Linked DNA regions of Homo sapiens: region 1 is linked to region 2. Evidence: fine-mapped QTL for protein levels in blood plasma. A gene starts in region 2. The other region holds a variant in brackets. All regions are shown on one strand. Distances are from middle to middle. Region 1 overlaps ADA (adenosine deaminase). Region 2 holds the start of ADA (adenosine deaminase).

Region 1 (9,016 bases), 20 kb before region 2:
GGCCTTGCCAGCCTCCCCAGCACCTTCCTTCTCCCTCATTCCCTGAGGCCACCGGAGAAGACACAGGCCTGCTCTTCCCCGATACTGTCCTACACTGCGTCTCTCCCGCTCCCCTGGTTTAGAGCCAGCTGAAGCTTCACCTCCTCAGAGAGGCCTTCCCTGACCACCTTATCTTTTTTTTTTTTTTTTGAGACAGAATCTTGCTCTGTCGCCCAGGCTGGAGTGCAGTGGCGCCATCTCAGCTCACTGCAGCCTCTGCCTCCTGGGTTCAAGTGATTCGTCTGCCTCAGCCTCCCAAGTAGCTGGGATTACAGGCGCATGCCACCACGCCCGGCTAATTTTTTGTATTTTTAGTAGAGACAGCGTTTCGCTGTGTTAGCCAGGATGGTCTCGATCTCCTGACCTCATGATCCGCCCACCTCAGCCTCCCAAAGTGCTGGGGATACAGGCGTGAGCCACTGTACCTGGCCCAGACCGCCTTATCTTAAAACGGCCCCTCCACCATTCTCCTGGGCTTTCTTTTTCTCCCAGGTCCTTATCACTACTCAACATTGTGTGTCATATGGCTTATCAGCCAGTTTGCTGTATTCCCTACTAGAATGCAGTCTCCATGTGGCAAGGACCCCTCTGTCTTGGGATGGCTGCGACCTCTCAGCTGAGGACCATGCCTAGGACAGAGTAGCCCAATATTTGTTGGTGATGGAGTTAAGGCTGGCAGGGAAGAGAAATGAGAGAAAAGGACACAGCTGGACAAGTCCAGAGGGATGCCTGGATGTGGGAGACACGTGGGATACAGTCATGGACTTGGATCCTTGTGCCCACACTTATCTGCTGTGTGACCCCTGGTTAGTCACCCTCTGACACCTAGGTCAAGGAGTTATTGCGGGGACAAATGAGTCAAACTTCATAAACCCCACCCGGGTCAGTGCTTGGAGCAGAGCGGACAAATGCTCAAAACATTTTCGTTGTTATTACTGCATGTTTGTTCCAGAAGCAAGGCACAAATTGGCCTGCCAGGGCCACTGTGTTGATCACGTAACGGTGGACTGTGCTTAGCTGGAAGTTCCCACCATGAAGAGTGAAAATGAAGTGGTTACTAGAATGTGTGAGGGAAGGCACACAAGTGCTGGGAGAGCCCAGCGTGGGAAGAAAGTGCCCTGCCCAGGGGAGATCAGGCCACTCTCAGGAGAAGGGGTCACCAGAAGTTCTTGCATCTTCAGGATGAGGATGGAGGCCAGGCGCAGTGGCTCACGCCTGTAATCCCAGCATTTTGGGAGGCCGAGGCGGGCAGATCACCTGAGGTCAGGAATTCGAGACCAGCCTGGCAAACATAGTAAAACCCCATCTCTACTAAAAATACAAAACCATTAGTTGGGTGTGATGGTGGGTGCCTGTGATCCCAGCTACTTGGGAGGCTAAAGCAGGAGAATCCCTTAAACTGGGAGGTGGAGGTTGCAGTGAGCTGAGATCGCACCACTGCACTTCAGCCTGGGCAACAGAGTGAGACTCTGTCTCAATAAATAAATAAATAAATAAATAAATAAATAAATAAAGCAGTCATGGAAATTTCTCTCTAGTACTCGCCCATACCCCTTCTGGGCCTTTTCGGTACCTAGTGCTGTTCCCTGGCGACTCAAGACAAGAAAAAGAAAAAGCCTTTTGGAGAATCTTCCCCACATCTCCCCGCCCCCACCCTATATTCAGGCCTCTCCTCCCCTCACAACACGAAGCCCTGAACTAGGAGATAGATGGCCCGGGTTCAAGCCCTGCACTGCCTCTGACCCTGTGTTCTTAGCTCCCATATTCTGCCATTTCTCTGTAGAACTTGAAGCAATTTCAGTCCATCACACCCACATCTCAGAAGGGAAAACTGAGGCCTAAAGGCACTGGAGAGACTCACTAAGTGTACACAATGGTGAGAAAGACAGCTGTGGTTTCAGAGCAACTTCTCTGGCCCCCACAGGCTGAGGGACAGGCCTGGTCCTAGTCATAGGGATCAATGCTGCCCTAGGACCTGTGGGTTGGGGGCAACTCACGCGATAGCAGGCATGTAGTAGTCAAACTTGGCCAGGAAGTCTGGAAGGGTGAGCGGCTTGTCCATGCCAATGACGTTCAGCAGCCCCTCTGCTGTGTTAGCTGGGAGGGCGATCCCTCTCCTCCTGGAAACAAAACAGTGAGTGGTGGACCAACCCGGGGCAGGATCCAGGCAGGCCTGACAGGCCAGGATGGAGCAGACTCAGGAGCGCCAGCCTCCTTGCAGGACCACAGCAGGAGACATGGGCGTCTCTCAGTCCAGCTGCTCCCACTGGACAGATGGGGAAACTGAGAACCAGGACCGGAATTTTTCCAGCACCTTCTACCCCCAATGCACAAGTCAGCAAATCTCAAGGGGGATAAACAGGTTGAAGTGTGTGTGTGTGTGTGTGTGTATGTGTGCACACATGCACACACCCCCTCCATATCCTTGGTTGACTGATGCTTGGAGACAAGGAAAGTGCCAGGTCAAGTTCATGGCTTCCTCCTCAGCCCCAGGAGCTGGCTCAGCCAGCTGGTCCTATGCCCAGTCAGGGGTTATCAGGGGCAGTAACTGCAGCATCACAATTCCCAGGGTAGGGGCAGGCATCAGGACTTCACCCTCCATCTGGCTGGCACATCAGAGGCTTGCCCAGCCCAGCGCACTGGGAGAGGGCCGGTGGAGGCTCAGGGGAGGGGCCCAGTGGGCCGCCAGCCAGCTCAGACCTCTCTCCCCTCCCTGCCCACAGCCGCCACACCAAGCTGGACTACAGCAGCGCTCAGTAAGAGCGTGCTGGAAACAGCCCCTCTGGCTTGGAGCCTCCATTTCTCCCCAAGCATCTCGGCCTCCCCTCCCAGCCACGGGAAGCAGGGTGCGAGCTCAGGGGGGCTCCCTCTCTTCTGCACACGCTCCTGCCTCCTCATCCCATCCCGGCTCTGCTCCAGCTCACAAGGTCACCTCGAGCCTCAGTTTCCCCCCCCTTTTTTTTTTAAGATACAACAGCCAGAGAACACCAGACATTAAGAAATGCTTCTAGGCTGGGCATGGTGGCTCACGCCTGTAATCCCAGCACTTTGGCCTCCCAGGCCAAGGTGCGAGGATCATGAGGTCAGGAGATTGAGACTATCCTGGCCAACATGGTGAAACCCCGTCTCTACCAAAAATACAAAAATTAGTTGGGTGTGGTGGTGTGTGCCTGTAATCCCAGCTACTCAGGAGGCTGAGGCAGGAGAATCACTTGAACCAGGGAGTCAGAGGCTGTGGTGAGCCGAGATCATGCTACTGCACTCCAGCCTGGTGACAGAGCAAGACTCTGTATCACAAAAAAAAAAAGAAAAAAAAAAGAAATGCTTCTAACATGAGGGACAAAACAACAGAATAGACAAAAGCACTCCGAGGAAACAGCACAGAGAACAGATGAAAACCTAAGAACCAAAACAAAAAAGACATGAATATCCTCAAAGAGATGAGAAGATCCTTGAAAGGAGGGAACATTCAGAACCCAAGAACGAGCCCTCGGAAATTTACAAGAGAATGCGGCAGCAACTGTCACGATGTAAGAAAAGAACTGGAAGCTAAAAGTGAAGAAATCCTCCACAAAGTAGAACAAAAAGACAAGATGATGAAAAATAGGAGTAAACAGTTAAGGAAATTAGAAGATTAAATCAGGAGGTCCAAGCATCCAATTATCCACAAAGCAGAAGCAGAAAAATAGGAGGCCGGGTGCAGTGGCTCATACCTGTAATCACAGTACTTTGGGAAGCCAAGGCTGGCGGATCACTTAAGCCCAGGAGTTTGAAACCAGCCTGGGCAACACAGTGAAACCCCTTCAAAACAAAAATTCACCAGGCGTGGTGGCGTGCACCTGTAGTCCCAGCTACTTGGGAGGCTAAGGTGGGAGGACCACCTGAGCCTGGAAGTCAAGGCTACTGCGGGCCAAGATTGCACCACTGCACTCCAGCTTGGGTGACAGAGCAAGACCCTGTCTCAAAAAAATAAAAAAGAATAAAGGAGGAAAGTGCCAAAGAAACAGAAGTTTGACCAAATAGTGTTTTAGTGTATGTAAGTAAGTTTGTAAGTCCTTTAATAGCTTCTGTTACTAAAATATTAAAATGCTTCCCTACATAAATATGTTTCCTAAGCCCCCTGAATGTGCTCCCTTCCCCATCTGTTAGCCCAAGTCCCCATGAGTGCCCAGAGGGTACCACCAAGGGGTCATGCTGGTGCCCACCAGCCTGCTAGTCAGCCCCTAATCACTGCTCCTTACCAGCCCCTAATCCCTGTAAGAGCCTGCAGGGGAACGGTGCCCTGGTGCGGCATTGGCACCTGGAGGTCGGAGCTCAGTGCCTCAGGTACCCCTGAGACTGCTTCCCCTCCCACTGCTGGCCAGCTGCCCCAAAGTCACCCTCACAAGGCCTTGCCCAGTAACTGTGGCCGCTGAAGAGCCTGTACCAGTTGTCAAACACTGTTGGGGATATCACTCTGGGAACTGCTGGGTAGAAGGCAGGGAGATGACACTAGGGCTCTGGCTCCCATATTGCCAAACCCAGTGGCCACATTTGCCTGGGACCTGCTGCGCCAGCCATGTGCGATTCTCCTAATGGTCTCCCTCCAGCCCCCAGAACTCCACCTGCGGGGGCTCTGCCCTCTGGTCGTTCTCTCTCAGACTCTGCCTTTTACACACCTGGCCAGGCCAACTCATCTCCTTTGGTGGTTTTCAGCTCCGGATCCAGAGGTCCACAGCTTCTAATTCTCTATGCCCATACACCACCACTGAGGGCCTGTGATGTGCTGGGCACTGGGCAGATAGCAGTGACCAAGACAGACCCATGTGTCTGGCTACCTGTTGAGAGGCAGGCATCTCGCGCCACCTTTCCCCTCCCTCTAGATCACTCCCTTCCTGGGTTCCACATTTCCAAATACGGCTCCTCCATCTACCCAGCTGCCCACACCAGAGACGGGCGCCTCCCCGTGCCCAGCACCAGCCCGTCCCCTAGAACAAATTATTTTGCTTTCTATTTCTCCTCTTCGATTCTTCTTCTCCAGCCTCCCTCCTCAACAACCATCAAGAAGGAACTTCTCAACACAGAGTTTAGACAGAGCAGCCAGGGAAGGCCTCTCTGAGGAGGTGACATTTCAGCAGAAGCCTTGGGGTGGGGGCAGTTCTGGGCAGGGGAGGGGTCTGTACTAAAGCTGCAGGCAGGAAGCCGCGGGCATTGGAAGTGCAGGGTGGCTGGAGGTCAGAGAGCAGGCATTTGTGCAGATGATGCACCAGGGAGGCAGGGCCAGGCTGGGCTTAGGAAGGGACTGGGGCTTTGGCTGAAAGCACTGGGAAGGCACTGTAGGATTTCAAGCAGGGGACTAGCATGAAATAATTTACCTTTTTGAAAGCTCCTCTGGCTGCTGCGTGGGAAACAAATTGGAGGGAAGCCAGAGCTGAGGCCAGAGAGCTAATGTGGGGGCCCGACAGGAGACAAAGAGCACAGGGGACTCCCAGTGTCTCCCATGGGACACAGCTTCCCGAAGCTGCTCAGACTGAGCTGGAAAGCGCCCATCTGGAGCCCAAAGTTGAAGCAGGAAAGAGCTGTTCCTAGGGCCCTGGCACCTCTTGCTGTCCCTGGCCACCCACACAAGCGAAGGCTCCTCATAGGGCCACCCTCTGTTTTTTCTTTTGTTTTGTTTTTTTGAGACGGAGTCTTGCTCTTGTTGCCCAGGCTGGAGTGCAATGGCACGACCTCGACTCACTGCAACCTTCACCTCCCTGGTTCAAGTGATTCTCCTGCCTCAGCCTCTCAAGTAGCTGGGATTATAGATGCCCACCACCATGCCTGGCTAATTTTTTATATGTTTAGTAGACACGGGGTTTCCCCATGTTGGCCACGCTGGTCTTGAACTCCTGACCTCAGGTGATCCACCCGCCTTGGCCTCCCAAAGTGCTGGGATTACAGGCGTGAGCCACCATGCACGCTCTGTTCTTAGATGATCCCTACTCCCTGGTCAGCCACAGCTGCTGTGCTGGGGCACTGTCTGGTCCTCTTCCGGCCTTGGTGGGCAACACAGTCACAAGAAGCCCACCATCAGGAGCCCAGGGAGGGAGGGAGGATGAGCTCAGGGGTTGCAGGTCAAGTCCATCTCCCACCCCTATTTACCACATCATCCCAGGCAGGAGCGCTCCCCTCTAAGGCCCTTGGTGCCCTTGTCAGTAAAACATAATATTTTCCATGTAGGGGTGCACAGAGGAAGAAATGAAACTTTGTGTGTCATGAGAAAGAGCAGACTCTGAAGCCCAGTGGTCTGGGTTTGAATCCCAGCTCTGTGACTTAAAGGCTGTGTGACCTTGGGCAAGTAACCCAGACTCTCTGTTTCCTAGGTCTGGCATGTTTGAAAAACATCCAGTGTGGACTAAGCAAGGAGCCTTAGAGAGGTCAGAGAGGCAATGCAGGCTTTGCAGAACTTTAAGGCCCATGTGTGGACTTTGGCTTTGACTCTGAGTGAGATGGGGAAGCTGGGGAATGAGCTGGGAAGACCATGGGTTAAGGCTCTTGCTCCAACTACAGCACTGCAGGGCCCGTAGAGAGGAAGGCCAGAGTAGATGGCTGAGACCAATCAGGAGGCCACAGCACCAGGGAGGGGCAGTGGTGGCCCAGACCAGGGCAGTGATCGGAGGAAAGAGCAGCCAGTTTCAGAATCTCTGTAGAAATAGTTGACAGGGTTATAAACAAGACTGAGAAAGAGGTTGGAGAGGCCCCTGAAAAGGCCAGAATCCTGGGAACTGGAGGAAGGAGAAATGGGTGAGGACAGTTAATGAGGCAGGCCTGAGTCCCAGAGCTGGAAAAAGGGCCACTGAATTGGGCCTAGCAGGGCTCAGGCCAGGGGCTCCCCTCCTCCTTCCATTCTTAGCCCATATTTGTGTGCATTTACAGACACCCATATCTGAGTGTGACAAACTCCCCAGTCCCCTGCCTGCTGACTTCAGGCCAAGCTCCAGCTGGCACCTGCCGCACGCCATCTCCAAGGCCCAGAGGTGGTGTGAGGAATGGACGATCAGACCAGTGCCCCTCCCGGCGGCTCCTTTCCCCTTTCTCTTAGCCCCACCCGGCGCTCCCAGCCCCTGGCTGCAGCTGATGAGCCCTCCGTGACCCCTTAATGAGTGCCTGGGTTCGATCTCATCTTGGTGCCCCACTGAACGACCTCATTAGGGGCCTTGTGGCAAGTTGGCGGCTTGACATGGGCAAAGGCCAGGCAGAGATAAGCCAAGAGGTTTCACCCCACTTAGAGATATAAGCTCCAATTAATAAGAATATTATCATTAAGTGACATTTATGGAGCACATTAATGTGTGCTAGGCCCTGAACTAAGCATTTTACGGGC[G/A]TCACTTACCAAAACCTCTAACTGACAGGGGGTAATGGCCAGGGCCATGGACTCGGGGGCAGACTATCTGGGTTCAAACCTCCGCCCTGTGCTTACTGGGCACCTTACTCCACCTACCACGGCTCAGTCTCCTCATCTGTAAATGACGGCAATAGAGTTCCTATCTTACAAATTGTTGTGAGGCTTCAATAACTTAACCCGGGTAACGCACTTAAAGGAGTGTTTGGCACACAGGAGGTGCTACTGTGCTTATGCCTTGCAGTTAAATAGGAATTAAATCAATGGCAGCTTCCTGGGGCAGAAGAAGGTCCCTGGAAGTGCGAAAAGATGGAGAATAGTGGACTTACCAGAAATCTCTCAGGGAGTTGGTGGAGATGCTCCCGAGAGTTGGGGGCAACCCCCCGGGATCCCTCATTCTCTCCATGAGGGCAGGCCTCTGAATAACAGGATTCTGGCTTATGGAGCAGAAATGTTCAAATTTGGGTCCCGAGCTGAATTTCAAGACTGTGACAGAGAGGCTGAGTTCTTTCAGCTCCAAACAAAATGAGTGTTGTGCAAACATCCGAGGAACACAGGTCTGCGGGGGCAGGGCTGGGTGGACAAGGAGCCCCTAGCTCCTAGGTCATCTCTCTAGGGAGGGCCTGTTCTTAGCCTCAGTTGATAGAGACCAAGTTCGCAGACAGGAGATAATATGTCCAAATTTGAATCCAGATCCACTGGCCTTTAAAGTCCCTGCCCTTAAAAGCTGGTCCTAAGAGAGGAGCTGCTGTGAGCCCTTGAGGTCTGGGTAGGAAGGGAAGAACCTTCCTCGCTGGGGAACAGGGGGACCCTCTGGCCCCCTAGCATCTCTGAGAGCTGAGGCAGGAAGTGTGTTCTCACTTGGAAGATGCAGAGATTTAGGCCCAGAGTTGGGGAGCCACTTTTCCGTGACTCCTAGCAGGTTATGACCCTGATGATGTAGTAAAGCCTTAGGGGTCAGACAGCCTTGGGTTCAACTCTTGATCTGCTATTAATTTGTGTGACCGTGGACAACTGTCTTGGCTGAGCCCATTCCCTCCTCAGTAAAATGCAGAGAGCGTATCCTCCTCTTCCAAGCGTGGAGGAATTCAATGAGCTGATAAAGCCCAGCCCAGCTCTAGGAGATGCTCAAGAAATTGTACTGGCATCTCATGTGAGCACATCACCTGCTATATATAGGCTCTCAGTTAAGTCAAAAGACAGGAGCCAGGCACAGTGGCTCATGCCTGTAATCCCAGCACTGTGGGAGGCCAAGCTGGGTGGATCACTTGAGGTCAGGAGTTCGAGACCAGCCTGGCCAACATGTGAAACCCCATCTCCGCTAAAAATACAAAAATTAGCTGGATGTGGTGGCATGTGCTTGTAATCCCAGCTACTCAGGAGGCTGAGGCAGGAGAATCACTTGAACCCAGGAGGTGGAGGTTGCAGTGAGCCGAGATCATGCCACTGCACTCCAGCCTGGGCGACAGAGCAAGACTCTATCTCAAAAGAAAAAAAAAAAGACGGATTCAGCCCTGGGAACTACCTTCATGCACGTATGTGGGTGGGTGGGGAGAGCAGGCTCAGGCCTGGCTCACCTGACACCAGGAGGACAAGACTCAGAGGCCCAGAAAG
Region 2 (15,316 bases):
AGAGTTACACAAAATTGATGGTGGTAGAGCTAGGGTGGAACTCAAGTCCCTCTGCCTCAGCCCAAGCCCTGCCCACAGGCCACACCCCCTCCCTGGCACTCATGTCGAGACAGTGCCTGGCCTCCTGACCTCTCCAGAGGGGAATCTCACGCCCCTTCCCACTGCCTTTGCTCTCTGCAAGGCTGACTCACAGCCAGCCCAGCATTTGTCTGAACAGCAGGAAATCCTCCCAGCGCTGATGTGAACAGGAAGCATCCTCAGTTACCAACAAATATTTACTAAGCCCCACTATGTGCCAGGCACCGTGGAGGCCCTCGGGAAATGCACTAAGTCCCTGCTCTCAAGAGATGCGTGCCAGAGAGGTCCAGGGCGGTGGGTTCACTTACCCAAGGTCACTCAGTGTGTCGGTGGCAGAGCTACCATGAGGACCCAGGTCTTGGACTCCTGGGACAGATACTCCCAGATCTGACTCATGTTTCCACGTTCCCAACTGCTGGAGGGCGAGCAGGGCCGTCTACCTCCAAGGCAAACCTAGTCAGATTAGTTCTCCCTGGTGAGCCTTGGGGACAACTAATCTGACTGGGTTTACCTTGGAGGTAGACGCCCTGCTCGCCTCCGGCAGTTGGGTTTGCCTCCCAAACACATCGCTCTGTTTTGTTTTCGTCTGACTTTTTGGGTTCATGTATGTAACATGTCTGTCTCCCTCATGAGCCGTTTGCTGAGAGGGGGGACCTTGTCTGTGTCATCATGTCGTGTCCTCAGCACCTCGCACAGCACCTAGTGCTCTCTGTGTTCAATGACCACACCGTTATTTCCTCGTTTCCCTGTCCCATGTCAGCAATGCTGGGTGCTCTCCCTGCAACAAGGAAGGGGCTGACCTGCCCCCATGGGACCTGGCAGAACCCACACGGGGGCAGAGGAGCCAGGGCTGCCTGGTCAGCTCACAGAACCTGAGCACCGTGGCCAGAACCCAGATGAGCCACAGGTGCCCACTGCCAATCGAATGTCCCCTCCCTCCCTAGCCCTGCTTTTGGTGATGAGCTGGGCAGTGCCAGGGTCAGTGACTTATGCCACTATGGCCTCTCAACTGACTTTTAGTGTGAGGCCAGGAGACAGAGCAGCCCTGGGCTGAGAAACTGTTTCAGCTCCACTTCCTCCAGGAAGCCCTCTATGCTCAGCCTCATCTAGGCTCCGCCAGCTCCGAGGTACACAGTGGAAGGGACTGAGCAGTCCCCACAGTGTCTCCTGCTGACGGGGCCTGACAGCTCTGCTGCTGAGAGGTTTCACAGAAGGCAAGATGTGTCTTCCACCTGGGGAAATTCCTGTGGAGCCACAGCATAGGGACTCAGCACACTTAAACTCGTTTTAAAGGCAACAAGACTGAGGCTCAGAGAGTGGGAGGACCTTGAGTTAGAAAGTCTAATGCATACCACAGCCAGGAAGCTATTTGACTCTAAACCCGGAGGTCTAGCAGCACGCTCCCTGCATGCCACATAGCAAGGTGCTGGGTCACTGATGCTAACATCTAAACAGGGGCCAGGTGCGGTGGCTCACTCTTGAAATCCCAGCACTTTGGGAGGCTGAGGTGGGTGGATCACTTGAGGCCAGGAGTTTGAGACCTCCTCTTCACAGAGGTGGAAGGGAGGACCAGCGGGGGCAAGTGTATCCCAAGTCCCAGCTACTTGGGAGGCTGAGGCAGGAGGATCGCATGAACCCAGGAGGCAGAGGTTGCAGTGAGCCAAAATCGTGCCACTGCACTCCAGCTTGGGTGACAGAGGAAGACTCCAGCTCAAAAAAAAAAAAAAAAAAAAAGTCACTGAAGTCACCTGGTACCCAGGACTACTTCAAGGACAGCCATTGTTATGGCCAACATGGTGAAACCCTGTCTCTACTAAAAACACAAAAATTAGCCAGGCATGGTGGCGCACACCTGTAATCCCAACTACTTGGGAGACTGAGGCAGAAGAATCACTTGAACCCGGGAGGCAGAGGTTGTAGTGAGCCGAGATTGCACCACTGCACTCCAGCCTGGGCGACAGAGTGAGACTCTGTCTCAAAAGTCAAAGTAGGACCATTACCAACCATGATGATGATGCTGACCAATGGCAGCTATTGCTGCAGCACCTGCTCTGAGCCAGGCCTGCACTTGGTGTTTGAGAGGTGGGTATGGGTATAATTCTCATTTTAGAGAGGGGAAACTGAGGCACCGTGAAGTTAAATGACTCATTCAAGCTCCTCTAGCTGGAAAGTGGGAAATCAGGACTCAGACCCAGAGAGCCTGACCCCAGCTGGTGTCCAAGTTCAAATTCCTTGCTGTTCTAGCTCCCTGGTCACTAGGAGTGCAGAGGTTATCCCCCACAACTGCTCAGGGGCCTGAGAACATTAAGGGCTGAGGGCAAGCCTACCCCCAACACCTTGGGTAAATACAGATTCCAACCTCACTCTGCGCCCACAGCCTGCTCCTCTCCACCTCCCCAGCCAGACCATGGTCCTACTACCTTGCCCCGCCCCAGGGGGTACCACAGGGACCCCTTCAAGACACCTGAGCAGGTGGACAAGTCTCTCCTGGATCACAGGGCCCCCAGCCACCCAGGTCAAGCCCACCCTGAGGTTGAATGCAGGATTGGGAAGCTGCCTGGCCTCCCCTGCCTCCCTGTGTGAACACAGACCACTTCCTCTCTCTGATCCTCCCTTCCTCCTCCGAAGCAAAAGGCTTCGATGAAACTCAGTCTCCTTTGTTCCCCTCCACCACCAACTGCCATGTGAGTCAAAATGGGTAAGGCAGGCTCTTCCTAGGCACATTTTTGTTTTAACAGGTGGCTCTGGTAACTGAAAGCCACTGCAAGCCCAAAGAAGTGCAGCTGGTGGGTTTTGTGTCAGGAAGACAAAAAGGAGGAGGGAGGAGGGAGATTCTGCAGCTGGAGAGGCCTCCCAGAGTCTACTGCAACCCCCACTCCAGTCCCCAGGAAGGAAACGCACCCCTGAGGGCCTGCTGTTACCAGCCAGGCACTGTACAAAAACCAATCAGCATGTCAGTTTCCCCAAGAACCCCAAGATCTTGGTTTTGTCACCCCATTTTACAGAGGGGGAAGCTGAGTTTCAGGAGTTGTCTACCTGAGGTACCCTAGCTGCTAAGCGGCAGGCAGGAATTCAACCCCAGTACATCTGAAGCCCAGGGCTAATGCACTGGCCCACCCTGCCACCCTGATTCTAACTCTTCCCCCCACACTGCCCCCTCTTTTTTGCATAAAGTGGAATTGGCAAATGAGCAAAGCAATGAACAGCTTCTACTTGAGTGCAGGCAGATCTGGGTTCAAGTCTAGCTCTGCTGCTTGCCAGCTGTGTGACTTTGGCAAGTTCCCTCCCCTCTCTGAGTCTCAGTTTCCTCATAATAAGTGAAGTTAATAATAGGACAGGACCTTCCTCAGAGGGCTGACATAAACATTAAATGAGTCACTGTATGCAAAGCAGGACAGCGCCTCGTGCAGAGTAGACATTCAAATATGAGACAGAAAAGGCACATTGCTGATTTAGCCCCAATTCCCCTCTGCATCAGAGAGGGACAGTTTAGAAACTGCTGTCCCTTGGCCGGGTGCGGTGGCTCATGCCTGTAATCCCGGCACTTTGGGAGGCTGAGGTGGGCGGATCACCTGAAGTCGGGAGTTCGAGACCAGCCTGGCCAACAAGGAGAAACCCCGTCTCTACTAAAAATACAAAAAATTAGCCGGGCATGGTGGTGCATGCCTGTAATTCCAGCTACTTGGGAGGCTGAGGCAGAAGAATCACTTGAACCTGGGAGGCGAAGGTTGCAGTGAGCCGAGGTCGTGCCATTGCACTCCAGCCTGGGCAACAAGAGCGAAACTCTGTCTAAAAAAAGAAAAAAAGAAAGAAACTGCTGTCCCAGCCTGTACCTGTTCACTTGCCAGTCTACAGCTTCAAGGCTCTCAGATTTTGTGTAGCCCTGGCAAGTCCCTCCACTCCCTAAGCTTCAGTTTCTTCATCTGTAAATGGGGATGAAGACCCATGCCTTGTCAAGTCGTCCAGAGGATTCCGTGAGATAAAAGTTACTAGCCGGGCACAGTGGCTCACACCTGTAATCCCAGCGCTTTGGGAAGCCAAGGTGGGAGGATCACCTGAGATCAGGAGTTCGAGACCAGCTGGCTAACGTGGTGAAACCCTGTCTCTACTAAAAATACAAAAATTAGCCGGGCGTGGTGGTGGACGCCTGTAATCCCAGCTACTCCGGAGGCTGAGGCAGAAGAATGGCTTGAACTCGGGAGGTGGAGGTTGTAGTGAGCCAGGATCACACCACTGCACTCCAGCCTGGGCAACAGAGTGAGACTGCGGCACACGCCTGTAGTCCCAGCTACTTGGGAGGCTGAGGCAGGAGGATCGCATGAACCCAGGAGGCAGAGGTTGCAGGGACCCAAAATCTTGCCACTGCACTCCAGCTTGGGCGACAGAGTGAGATTCTGGCAAAAAAGAAAAAGTCACTGAAGGCACCTGGTACCCAGGACTACTTCAAGGACAGCTATTGTTATGATTATTGTAACAGGCATGTGATCAGCACTGGCCTCCAGGATGCAGAATGCCTGAGTGCCTGGTGCCACCTGTGAACATAGGCTGATAAGGGCCACCCCTGCAACCCCCCTTTCCACTTCTTCCAGTGCCCAGCAGGTGCTAAGTCAAACCAGGTGGGGGTATGGGAGGCACACCCGACAGGGCAAACTTGACTTGGGCATCCCCTGACGATGACCCTGCATGGCAGGCACACTTGAATGGGTGTTCAGAGTTCTGAGCGAAGGAATCCAAGAGTGGCCAACCTGGAGATCCAGTCGTTATCTATGAGGAACATCTGAGCCCCACCCCATTCCCACGGGACACTGACCATACAGGGGTATAGGGACCGAGGCCCTTTGTTTTGGGTTAAATGAAGGTTACTAGGTGGAGATGGTTGGGAGAAGGTGTTAAATGAAAATGCTACATAAACTGCATGATTTGCAAGTGGTTGCGGTTCTTCTGCTCAGTCTGCCGCCACTGGACTCTCTTCCCTGTGTCTAAGCCCCCAGTAAAACCCCGTATCTTGTTTGCTACCTCTTCCAAAGAAGGTAGCCTCTTGAACCTGGTGCTATATCCATTGGAGTCAATAGGGGTCCCGCACAACAGAAGGCAGCTGCCTAGGGCCTTGCTAAGCAAAGTGTGTTCCTGGATCGTTGACATTAGCATTTCCTGGGAGCTGGTCAGCAGTGCAGCATCGCAGGCCCCAACCCGACCCACACAGAATCACAGTGTGAACATTAAAAGTCAGGCCACTTGAGTGCAGTTTGAAAAGCGCTGCCCTGCTCTGCTTTCTTCTAGCTGACCAGGTCCCAGGCCTCAGCTGGTGGCAGGTATGAGAAGCTGAAGGACACAGCAAAGGCTCCTGTCTCAGGAGGTTTGCACCTGGGGCACTGGCACCTCTATCCCCAAAGGCTTCTGCAGAGGTAGTTTAGGAAAGATGGTTAGAGGCATGGGATTTCGAAGCCAGCCTCCCTTGGACTCAAACCCCAGATTGGACATTTCCTAGCTGTGTGATCTTGGGCCTAGTTAACCTCTCTGTGCCTGGATTAAATAAAAAATGCAGATAATGTGTTTAGAACGGTGCCTGGCACAGAAACATCAACACTCCATTAGCTGCAGCTAGTAATGCTAATAATTATAACTGTCATCTGTCCCTCCCACAAGAGGGCAGGGAGCTGGCTCTGGTCACAGTGGCTCTGAGATTCACACTCCTTCCCACTTCTCCTGCCAGCTCACACAAGTTCCTCCTCACAATCATACAAGATTTGTCACGCCTCAAACACATGGCAGGTAACATTCTACCTTCACTCTCAAGCATCACCTTGTGGCCTTGGGACTCAGGACACGGGACACCCACATAAGCAGCTGATGTTCCATCCTCCAGGTGTGGACACTGAGGTCCCAATAGGGAAAATGATCTGCCAGCTTGAATCAGATGGGAGGACTGAGCAAGGCCAAAAAATGGGGATAATAATATGAGCCCCTCCCTTGATGGGCTGTTACAGAAGAACTGCAAGGATCCAATGGGTGTCTGCAACAAGTGCTCTAGAAGTGGGCCCTGCTGTTCTCTCCATAACTCCCAACATGTTCGCAATCAAGGAGCCTTTTTTTTTTTTTTTTTTTTTTTGAGACAGCGTCTCACTCTGTCACCCAGGCTGGAGTGCAATGGCGAGATCTCGGCTCACTGCAAGCTCCACCTCCTGGGTTTATGCCATTCTCCTGCCTCAGCCTTCTGCGTAGCTGGGACTACAGGCGCCCGCCACCATGCCCAGCTAATTTTTTATATTTTTAGTAGAAATGGGGTTTTGCCATGTTGGCCAGGCTGGTCTCGAACTCCTGGCCTCATGATCCACCCACCTTTGCCTCCCAAAGTGCTGGGATTATAGGCGTGAGCCACTGCACCCCGCCAATCAAAGAGCTTTGCTATTGCCATAGGATTCACATCAGGGTACAGTGGGTCCCCAGCCCAAGGGCAGAGGGAGCCCAGAGCATTTAATAAAAAGACTGCAAAGGGGAGGCGCCAATCATGGGCCCCAGCTCCAGTAAGACGTGAAGGAGGCAGGGGTGGGGGTAGGAGGGCTTGTACAGCACCTCAGTGCTTCCAGCTTCTGACGGGGAGTAGCTGAGCATTTTCCCTGGGCTGGGGGCATCAGTAGTGGGGGCCAGGCCTCACCCTCCTCAGAAGGTAGGTGGGCTCTCCACAGCCTGTCTCCCTCACTGACACATGCACACTCACTGGATTCTCACCGGCACTTTTGTGATAGCTGTCATCATCATTCACACCTATTTCTTTTCTTTTCTTTTTCTTCTCTTTTTTTTGAGACAGGGTCTCGCTCTGTCTCCCAGGCTGAAGTGCAGTGGCACCATCACACCTCACTGCAGCCTCAACCTCCTGGGCTCAAGCGATCCTCCCGCCTCAGCCTCCTGAGTAGCTGGGACTACGGGAGTGCACCACCACACACACTTCCCCTAACTTTTTTTATTTTTTGGAGAGACGGGGTCTAGTTTTGTTGTCCAGGCTAGTCTCAAACTCCTGGACTCAAATGATCCTCCCGCCTCAGCCTCACAAAGTGCTGGGATTACAGGCGTGAGCCAACCTCCTGGGCCACTCACACCTATTTCTTAGAAGGGTAAGTTGAGGCTGACTGCAGCTGACTCCTTCCCCAACCACTCTCACACCCTACTGGCTGACTCACCCTGCTTGGCAGACTCCTGGGCCCCTCCTCTCGGACTCTGCGACAGGCCAAGGGGGTCCAGACCCTCCCTGACCCCAACAGTCCCAAGACGCCACAGCTGGTGGGCGGAGAAACAAGGGGATTCTCCCCTGGGGCCAGTGGCCATGGCTTGGCCTCGAGTGAACCCTGCTAGGGCCCCAAACCCAGGGCCTACCTAGCTCCTGTTCTTCCCGCGCGGGGGAAGGGGGGTGCTCTGCTCCCCTCCCTCCCCTTTCTGGCAGGGCTCACGGTTCTTCCCCGGGGCGCATCCACAAACCTGAGCTCCTTGGCGCTCACCACCATAACGCTGGCGTACAAAGCTGCTTCCATTCACTGAGCACTCAGTAGGCGCCGGGCACAGCACTAGGTGCCTATCCGGCGTAGACATCGGGCCTGATCATACAGCTGAGCTTCAGAGACCTCAAGTCCCTGCCCAGGCCCACACAGCGCTCAGCGGTGCTAGGATGCCCACTTGACAGACAGCGAAACTGAGACCCAGAGGGGTCAAGTCAGGGGCAGAAGCAGACTCTGGAGGCCTCCGGGTTCTGGACCTTCTCTGCCCCATTGTCCCTGATTAGCCCGCAAGCAAGCCACGGCCTAAGCCGAAGGAAGAACTCGCCTGCAGGAGCCCCCGTTCGTTCCCAGGGTTTGGACGCCCCGGGCTGGGCCCCGCTAAGCCCCTCGGGCCGCCCAGGCGCCGGACCCCCGTCCCCGGAGCCCCCGCGCGCGCTCACTTTGGGCTTGTCGAAGGCGGGCGTCTGGGCCATGGTGCCCTCGTGCGCCCCGGCGCTGCTCCCTCCGCCGCCGCTCGGTGGGTCTCTGCCGGCTCGGTGGCCGCTCGGCTTTCCCTGGGGCCAGCGGTGGCCGCGGCCGGCCACGCTCTTCTTAACGGGCCGGGCCCCGCCTCCCGCCCCGCCCGCCGCCGTTCCCGGGGCCCGCCCTCTCGCCGGAGCCCCCGCCCCGCCCGCCGGCCTGGATCGCGCATTTCCTGGAATTCTGGACCCGGCGTCCTCGCCCGCCGACCCGAAAACTACGGCCCCGCGGCGCCCGACCGGACCCACCTGTGGGCGCGCGCTCCAGCCGCCTCGCTGGGCGCTGCCTTCCCCCCGGCTCCTCCAGCAACTTTCAAGCGTCCCCCTGCAGTCTGGGCGCTGCTGTGCGCCAGGCCCAAGCTAGAAGCGGGGACCCCGGGAGCATCGCAAGCCTCGAGCGGCGTGCCTTCCACCGGATAGACGGACGCTCGTCGCAGAAACACACACCATAATTGTATAGTTAAGGAACTTTCGAGGGGGGCCAGCCGTGGCCTGCAGAACCTGCAGGAGTTCATCAGGGGTGGGTGGGGGTGGAGAGGACATTCTACGTGAGAGACTCCAGGGAGCTGGGAGTGAAAGGAGGCGAGGAAGGCTGGAGCTCGGAGGGAGGGAGAACACAGACAGTCCCCTCCTGGGCATTCACCTTTAAGAAACCCGCCCAGGCGCAGCCAGAGACCTGTGCAGAATGTTCACACCAGCGCTATTCCGAATAACAGGAACATTGGAAACACCCTCAAATGCCCCTCCACGGGCGAGTGGGCAAATAAACCGGAATATTCACACCATGAAACGTTAGACAGCAGTGAAACGGAATGAACTTCAGCCAGACAACAACAGAAACAATGTCTCAGAAACAATGTTGAGTGAAAAAAACTAAGTTGCGGAAAACTGCATACAATGGTGCAACTTTTAGAATGTGTAAAAGCAAAACCAAAAGTATGTATGTTTAGACACATGCATCGGTGGAAAAAATGTAAAGCAAGGGAAAGATGAGCATAGATACGAGAAGAGTGGTTATCTCAGGTGAAAGGGAAGGAGCCGGGAGGAGGTAAGGACGGAGGGAAATAACACGCGGGTACAGGTTATTTATTTATTTATTTATTTATTTATTTATTTATTTATTTATTTACTGAGACGGAGTTTCGCTCTTTCGCGGAGGCTGCAGTGAAGTGGCGCGATCTGGGCTCACTGCAACCTCTGCCCCTCTGGCCCGCCTCCTCCCCACCGCTCCCCCGCACCCCCAGCGTTTCAAGCGATTTTCCTGTCTCAGCCTCCCGAGTAGCTGGGATTATAGGCGCCCACAACCACGCCTGGCTAATTTTTGTTTTTTGTTTTTTTGTTTTTGTTTTTGTTTTTTTGAGATGGACTCTTGCTCTGTCGCCCAGGCTGGAGTGCAGTGGCGAAATCTCGGCTCACTGCAACCTCCACCTCCTGGATTTTAAGCAGTTCTCGGCCTCAGCGTCCCGAGTAGCTGGGATTACAGGCGCGTGGCACCGTGCCCTGCTAAGTTTTGGATTTGTAGTAGAGACGGGGTTTCACCATGTTGGCCAGGCTGGTCTCGAACACCTGACCTCACATGATCCACCCACCTCGGCTTCCCAAGGCGTGATTACAGGCATGAGCCACCACGCCTGGCCACACACAGGTTATTGATAATGTTCCAGTACTGGGGTGGATGGTAGCTTCATTTCATTTCATCATAAATAAATTAACAAACCCATAAACAAGGGGGAAAGAGAGAGTGGGAGAGTGGAGAGCAAGGGGCTAGAAGGTCTGATGGGAGCTGAATCCTGCCAGGGATGTGGGACCCAGCGATGGTGTGGGATTCCTAGGAAGTCAGTGGAGTGTTTTAAGTGGAGGCGAGACAAAATCACCCTTTTATTTGGAAAAAATATTCTCCAGCTACTGAAAGTGTGATCCAGGGATCATCAGCACCCACATCACCTGGGAGCTGACTACAAATGCAGACTTTCAGACCCCATCCCAGACCTACTGAAGTAGAATCTGTATTTTATACAAACAGGACCCCCAGGTGGTTCGCACCCACAGGGCACTTTGAGAAGCCTGGGCTCCCTGCTGTGAGGGGAGGGCATTACAGGGGGCCAGCGGGGGTGAGGGAGGACAGGATACCAGGAAGGAGGCAACTGCCATGGTCTGGGTAGGGCATAGTGATGTCAGTGGGGGAAGTGGAGAAACTCATATTCAAGCTGCATTTAGGGTGTAAAATCAGCTGGATTTGGGGTTTGGTTGTATGTGGGAGTGAGGGAGAGGGTGGCTGTATTAGTCCATTATTTTCATGCTACTGATGAAGACATACCCGAGCCTGGGCGCAGTGGTTCATGCCTGTAATCCCAGGACTTTGGGAGGCCAAGGCAGGAGGATCACCTGAGGTCGGGAGTTTGAGACCAGCCTGACCAACATGGTGAAACCCCGTCTCTACTAAAAAAAAAAAAAAAAATACAAAATTAGCCAGGCGTGGTGGTGTATGACTGTAATCCCAGCTACTCGGGAGGCTGAGGCAGGAGAATCGCTTGAACCTGGGAGGTGGAGGTTGTGGTGAGCCAAGATTACACCATTGCATTCCAGCCTGGGCAACAAGAGCGAAACTCCATCTCATGAAAAAAAAAAAAAAGACATACCTGAGACTGGGTAATTTACAAAAGAAAGAGGCTTTAATAGACTTACAGTTCCACAATGGTGGGGAGGCCTTGCAATCATGGCAGAAGGCAAAGGAGGAGCAAGTCACGTCTTACATGGATGGCAGTAGACAAAGAGAGAGCGCCTGCAGGGAAACTCCCATTTTTAAAACCATCAGATCTTGTGAGACTTATTTACTATCACAAGAACAGCATGGGAAAGACCATCCCCCATGATTCAATTATCTCCCGCCGAGTCTCTCCCACAACATGTAGGAATTATGGGAGCTACTAGATGAGATTTGGGTGAGGACACAAAGCCAAACCCTATCAGTGGGTCTCATACATTGTCAAAGCCAGGGGAGTTTTTTGTAAGATCCTTTCTTGGCTCTCTGTGTTACTCGGGTTCAATAATAGGGGCTGCCATTTACTGAGACAGGTTTGGAGCCAGGTACACTGGGAAGCACTTTATAAGCACCCATCCCATTTCATCTTTACAGTCATCCTCAGATGTAGGAGGTGTTCTCCTCATTTTACAGATGAGGACACTGAGGTTCAGATAGAGAGACAGCCTGCTTGGCTCATGGGTTGTAAGTGGCAAAACTGGGGTTTAAATTTGAATCTGACTCGAGAAACTTCACTCCCCACCTTATTGCCTCCCCAGCCTCTCATGACATTCAAGTCCCTCTTCAACATCAGTCCCACCACTTCCCACCACATTGCTGAAATGCCAATCAACCTAGATGAGTTGCTGGTTGCTTAAGGGTGACACAAATTATTTGCAATTCTTCACATTGCAAGATGGAGTCTAGGTTTCCTCCTCTTGGACCTGGGCTGGCCTGAGTGACTTGTTGGAGTAATAGAGCGTGATGGGAGCAAGCTTCCTGGATTTCCGAGCCTTGGTCATAAAGAAGCTTTGTGGTGTCCTTTGGGGCCTCTTGAACATTCTCTCTGGGAACCCAAGCTTCTAGAAGAGACCATCATGCTAAGAGAGTCCACATATGGCCATTCCAGTTGACAGTCCCACTGAGCCCAGGCTTCCACCATCCCTACGAAGACAGCAATCATGTTAGCGAAGCTGTGTTGGGCCATCCAGCCCAGCTGCCCACTGAAAACCAGGCTTTGGTCAATGCCATGTGGGACAGAAGAATTACCCAAGTAAGCCCAGCCCAAATTCCTGACCTATAGTATTGAGATATGTAATGAAATGGATGTTATTTTAAGCCATTGTGTTTTAGGGGGAGATTGTCACACAGCAGTAGGTAACAGGAATGCTTGCTTCTACCTGCCCCAGCCCTCCAGCCTCTGCACCTTAGTCACTTCCATCCTGACACCTGGAAAACCCTTTACCCAGATCCTAGACTATCAAAATTCTGCATTCCAAATGGGTCAGATCCAAAGGGCCAGGCTGCGTGATGCAGTTCTTCTGTTTGCCCCTGCAGGTGCACTCTCCACCCTTCTGCACGCTGCTCTGCTCCTCTGTGTCCGGCAGCCATGCTGCTGTGGGTGAGACCAATGGGCTCTCCTGCCCTCTGGCTCTGGTTGGGTTTTGTCAACAGGGAGCACCAGCAGGAGAACAGCAGATGAGAGGAGAGAGGTCAGGATATTCATTCCCCCTTTCCCTCGGTGCACAGTCACTGGGCTGACTGTGTCTCTCTACCAAGGCCACATCTCCTGTCAGTCCTCCTGGCCCACCTCTCCATACCCTCCCCATTCCAGATTCCCTCTTGCCTATTGATTGATTGATTGATTTTGAGACAGAGTCTCACTCTGTCGCCCAGGGTGGAGTGCAGTGGTGCAATCCCAGCTCACTGCAACCTCCACCTCCTGGGCTCAAGCAATTCTCATGCCTCAGCCTCTGGAGTAGCTGGAATTACAGGCACCCACCACTATGCCCGGCTAATTTTTGTATTTTTAGTAGAAACTTGGTTTTACCATGTTGGCCAGGCTGGTCTTGAACTCCTGACCTCAAATAATCCACCCACCTTGGCCTCCCAAAGTGTTGGCGTTACAGGCATGAGCTACCGTGCCTGGCCTCCTGCCGTTTTCTTGAAAGGCAGTGGTTCCCTTTGTTACCAGAGTCCCACGCCACCCGTTGTTGCTTTCCTTAAACTCTCCTCGCTAGGTTCAGGTTTCCCCAGAAGCAGAGCCTGAGACAAAGATTTCAATGCAAGTAGTTTATTTGGGAAGAGGAAACATGGGAAGGATGTGGGTGCGAAACAAGACAGGAAAGGGGAAGAAGCTGACATGAGCAGGTCACCACACTGAGCACCTGGAGCTCTATCCCTGGGCAGCACTCTGGGAGATGATGAATATGTTGCAGGCTTAACCCAGCAGAGGAGCGAGGAAGCTGGGGAATCTAACTGCCCCCTCCCCTCTGGCAATGCTTCCAGGACATTAACTTCCTGGCACTCTTAGTTTGTTCAACATGACCGGCTGAGTTTCTTGCATGGCTAGAAAATATTTGCAGCAATGAGAGAGAGACTCTGTTAGCAGTAAGTAGCTATTGCCATGTAGAGGTGATTTTGAGGGCATATGGGCAGCTACACCAGCCCACACCTATGTAAATAACTCCCATATTAAACCCTCTTCAATTACTCAGTTTGAGTGTGGCACCTGGTTCCTGCCAGGACCCCGAGTGATACAGGCTGGTCTTGAGCTTCTTCATAGCAATACAGAGTGGACCAGTGACTACAGAAAGCTTGAGAGGGGCTGGAGAGAGATGCCTTCCCCAATATTCATTATCCACACAGCACGCCACTCCTGTGAGAAGACAACAGAGATTGTGTATGTTTGAGAATGTCTCTCTACCTCCAATGTAGCCCTCCTGAAAAATCTAGTTCAAGATCTATTCCAGGCCAGGCGCAGTGGCTCACACCTGTCATCCCAGGACTTTGGGAGGCCGAGGCGGGCGGATCACCTGAGGTCAGGAGTTTGAGACCAGCCTGGCCAACATGGTGAAACCCCATCTCTACTAAAAATACAAAAATTAGCCGGGCATGGTGGCATGCACCCGTAATCCCAGCTACTCGGGAGGCTGAGGCATGAGAATCCCTCTGGGCCACAGAGGGAGACTCTGTCTCAAATAAATAAATAAAAATCAAGATCAAAATGTATATGATCAGGAGCCTCAGCTCCACCACTTACAGCTCTGTGGCTTTGGGAAAGTTGTTTTGAGCCTTGATTTTCTCATCTGTGTAGTGGGGATAACATATACATACTAATTAATAGGATAAACCATAGACACGCCTCGCTCATAGGAGGAGAAGAACATCCTCACACAATGGGAGAGGTGGGGATTGTGGAAAGGAGAGAGCAAATGCCTCGTCAAGATGCTGCTGTGCTGAAACATAAATCCAGTGTTGCCAGATCCTCCAATCATCCAAAAAAGCCGGAGACCCATCTTTTAATGTTTAAACTGTATTCAAATGTGTCCTAATGTTTAAAACTTTGTATAAGCCAAAGAAAACATCTGTGGGCCAGATTTTGCCCCACACAGCCAAGGTCCCTGCTGATTCTGATCTTCTAAGATCTCTGAATAAGAAAGAGGACAAGGGACAGGTTGCCCTTTCACTCACATTTATCAGACAGGATTAGGATCAGTTGCACACAACAGAAAACACCCAAATAATAGTGGCTGAAAAAAGACAGAAGTTTATTTCTCTGTTGTGTAAAAAGGCCAGAGGCAGGCAATGCCACTGATGTGACAACTCTGTGAAGATGCCTCCTTCTATCTCTCTGCTCTGCCATCCCTAGCATCCAGCCCCTATCCTCATTGTGCAGTATGGCTGCTGGGGCACCAGCCTTCACATCTGCAGTCCAGAGAGCAGGGCTGAGGAAAGGATGCAGCAGCTAGTGCTTGTCTCTCTTTTTTTTTTTCTTGAGACAGAGTCTCACTCTTTTGCCCAGGCTGGACTGCAGTGGCACTATCTTGGCTCACTGCAAGCTCTGCCTCCGGGGCTCACGCCATTCTCCTGCCTCAGCCTCCCAAGTAGCTGGGACTACAGGCGCCTGCCACCACGCCTGGCCACTTCTGTCTTTTAAAGATCTAGATACCTGGTTTTCCTCACAACAAATTCTGCTTATATAGTCACATGGCCACATCTAATCGCAAAGGAAACTAGGAAATGTCTTATACCTGTAAGGCAAGGTACCCAGCTAAAAAAAAGGAGATTGTGTTACTAAAGAAGAGGATAGTAGGCCCACTGCAGTGGCTCATGCCTGTAATCCCAACACTTTAGGAGGTCGAGGTGTTCGATCACAAGGTCAGGAGTTCGAGACCAGCCTCACGAACATGGTGAAACCCCGTTTCTACTAAAAATACAAAAATTAGCTGGGCACGGTGGTGCACACCTGTAATCCCAGCTAATTGGGAGGCTGAGGCAGGAGAATTGCTTGTACCTGGGAGGCAGAGGTTGCAGTGAGCCATGATTGTGCCACTGCATTCCAGCCTGGGTGGACAGAGCAAGACTCCGTATTGGGGGAAAAAAAAAATTAGAGGATAGTAGATCTAGAAGGCTGCTCATTTCTGCCACATCAAATAGCCTGGTAGGTGAGGAGGGTATATGGATAGGTGGAAAGAGTGTTACCAGGA

What was found. PIP is the chance, under the fine-mapping model, that this variant and not a neighbour inherited with it causes the effect. Protein levels are from antibody-based Olink assays in UK Biobank. Linkage for the fine-mapping came from a reference panel and not from the study's own genotypes, which makes the PIPs less certain.
Region 1: its variant is fine-mapped to the plasma level of the ADA protein (UK Biobank, PIP above 0.99).

The regions. Positions count from the first base shown.
Region 1 is chr20:44,627,011-44,636,026 of GRCh38, forward strand. It overlaps ADA (adenosine deaminase), which reads right to left. Exons shown (of 12, transcript NM_000022.4): 3 at 2,037-2,159. Among named protein-coding and RNA genes, the nearest start is that of ADA, 20 kb to the right of the region's middle. RefSeq lists enhancers at 1,994-9,016, 2,231-2,981, 2,982-3,731, 6,248-9,016, 7,139-7,468 and a cis regulatory region at 7,586-7,735. The variant G/A (reference allele first, on the strand shown) is at 7,385.
Region 2 is chr20:44,643,567-44,658,882 of GRCh38, forward strand. ADA (adenosine deaminase) reads right to left here and starts at 8,133. Exons shown (of 12, transcript NM_000022.4): 1 at 8,009-8,133. The coding sequence starts at 8,041. LINC01260 (long intergenic non-protein coding RNA 1260) reads right to left here. Exons shown (of 5, transcript NR_034104.1): 5 at 12,885-13,485. RefSeq lists enhancers at 1-581, 1,255-1,334, 4,492-4,992, 7,582-7,691, 7,922-8,905 and 3 more, cis regulatory regions at 1,490-2,048, 2,737-2,764, 3,148-3,743 and silencers at 2,345-2,424, 4,301-4,469, 7,942-8,331.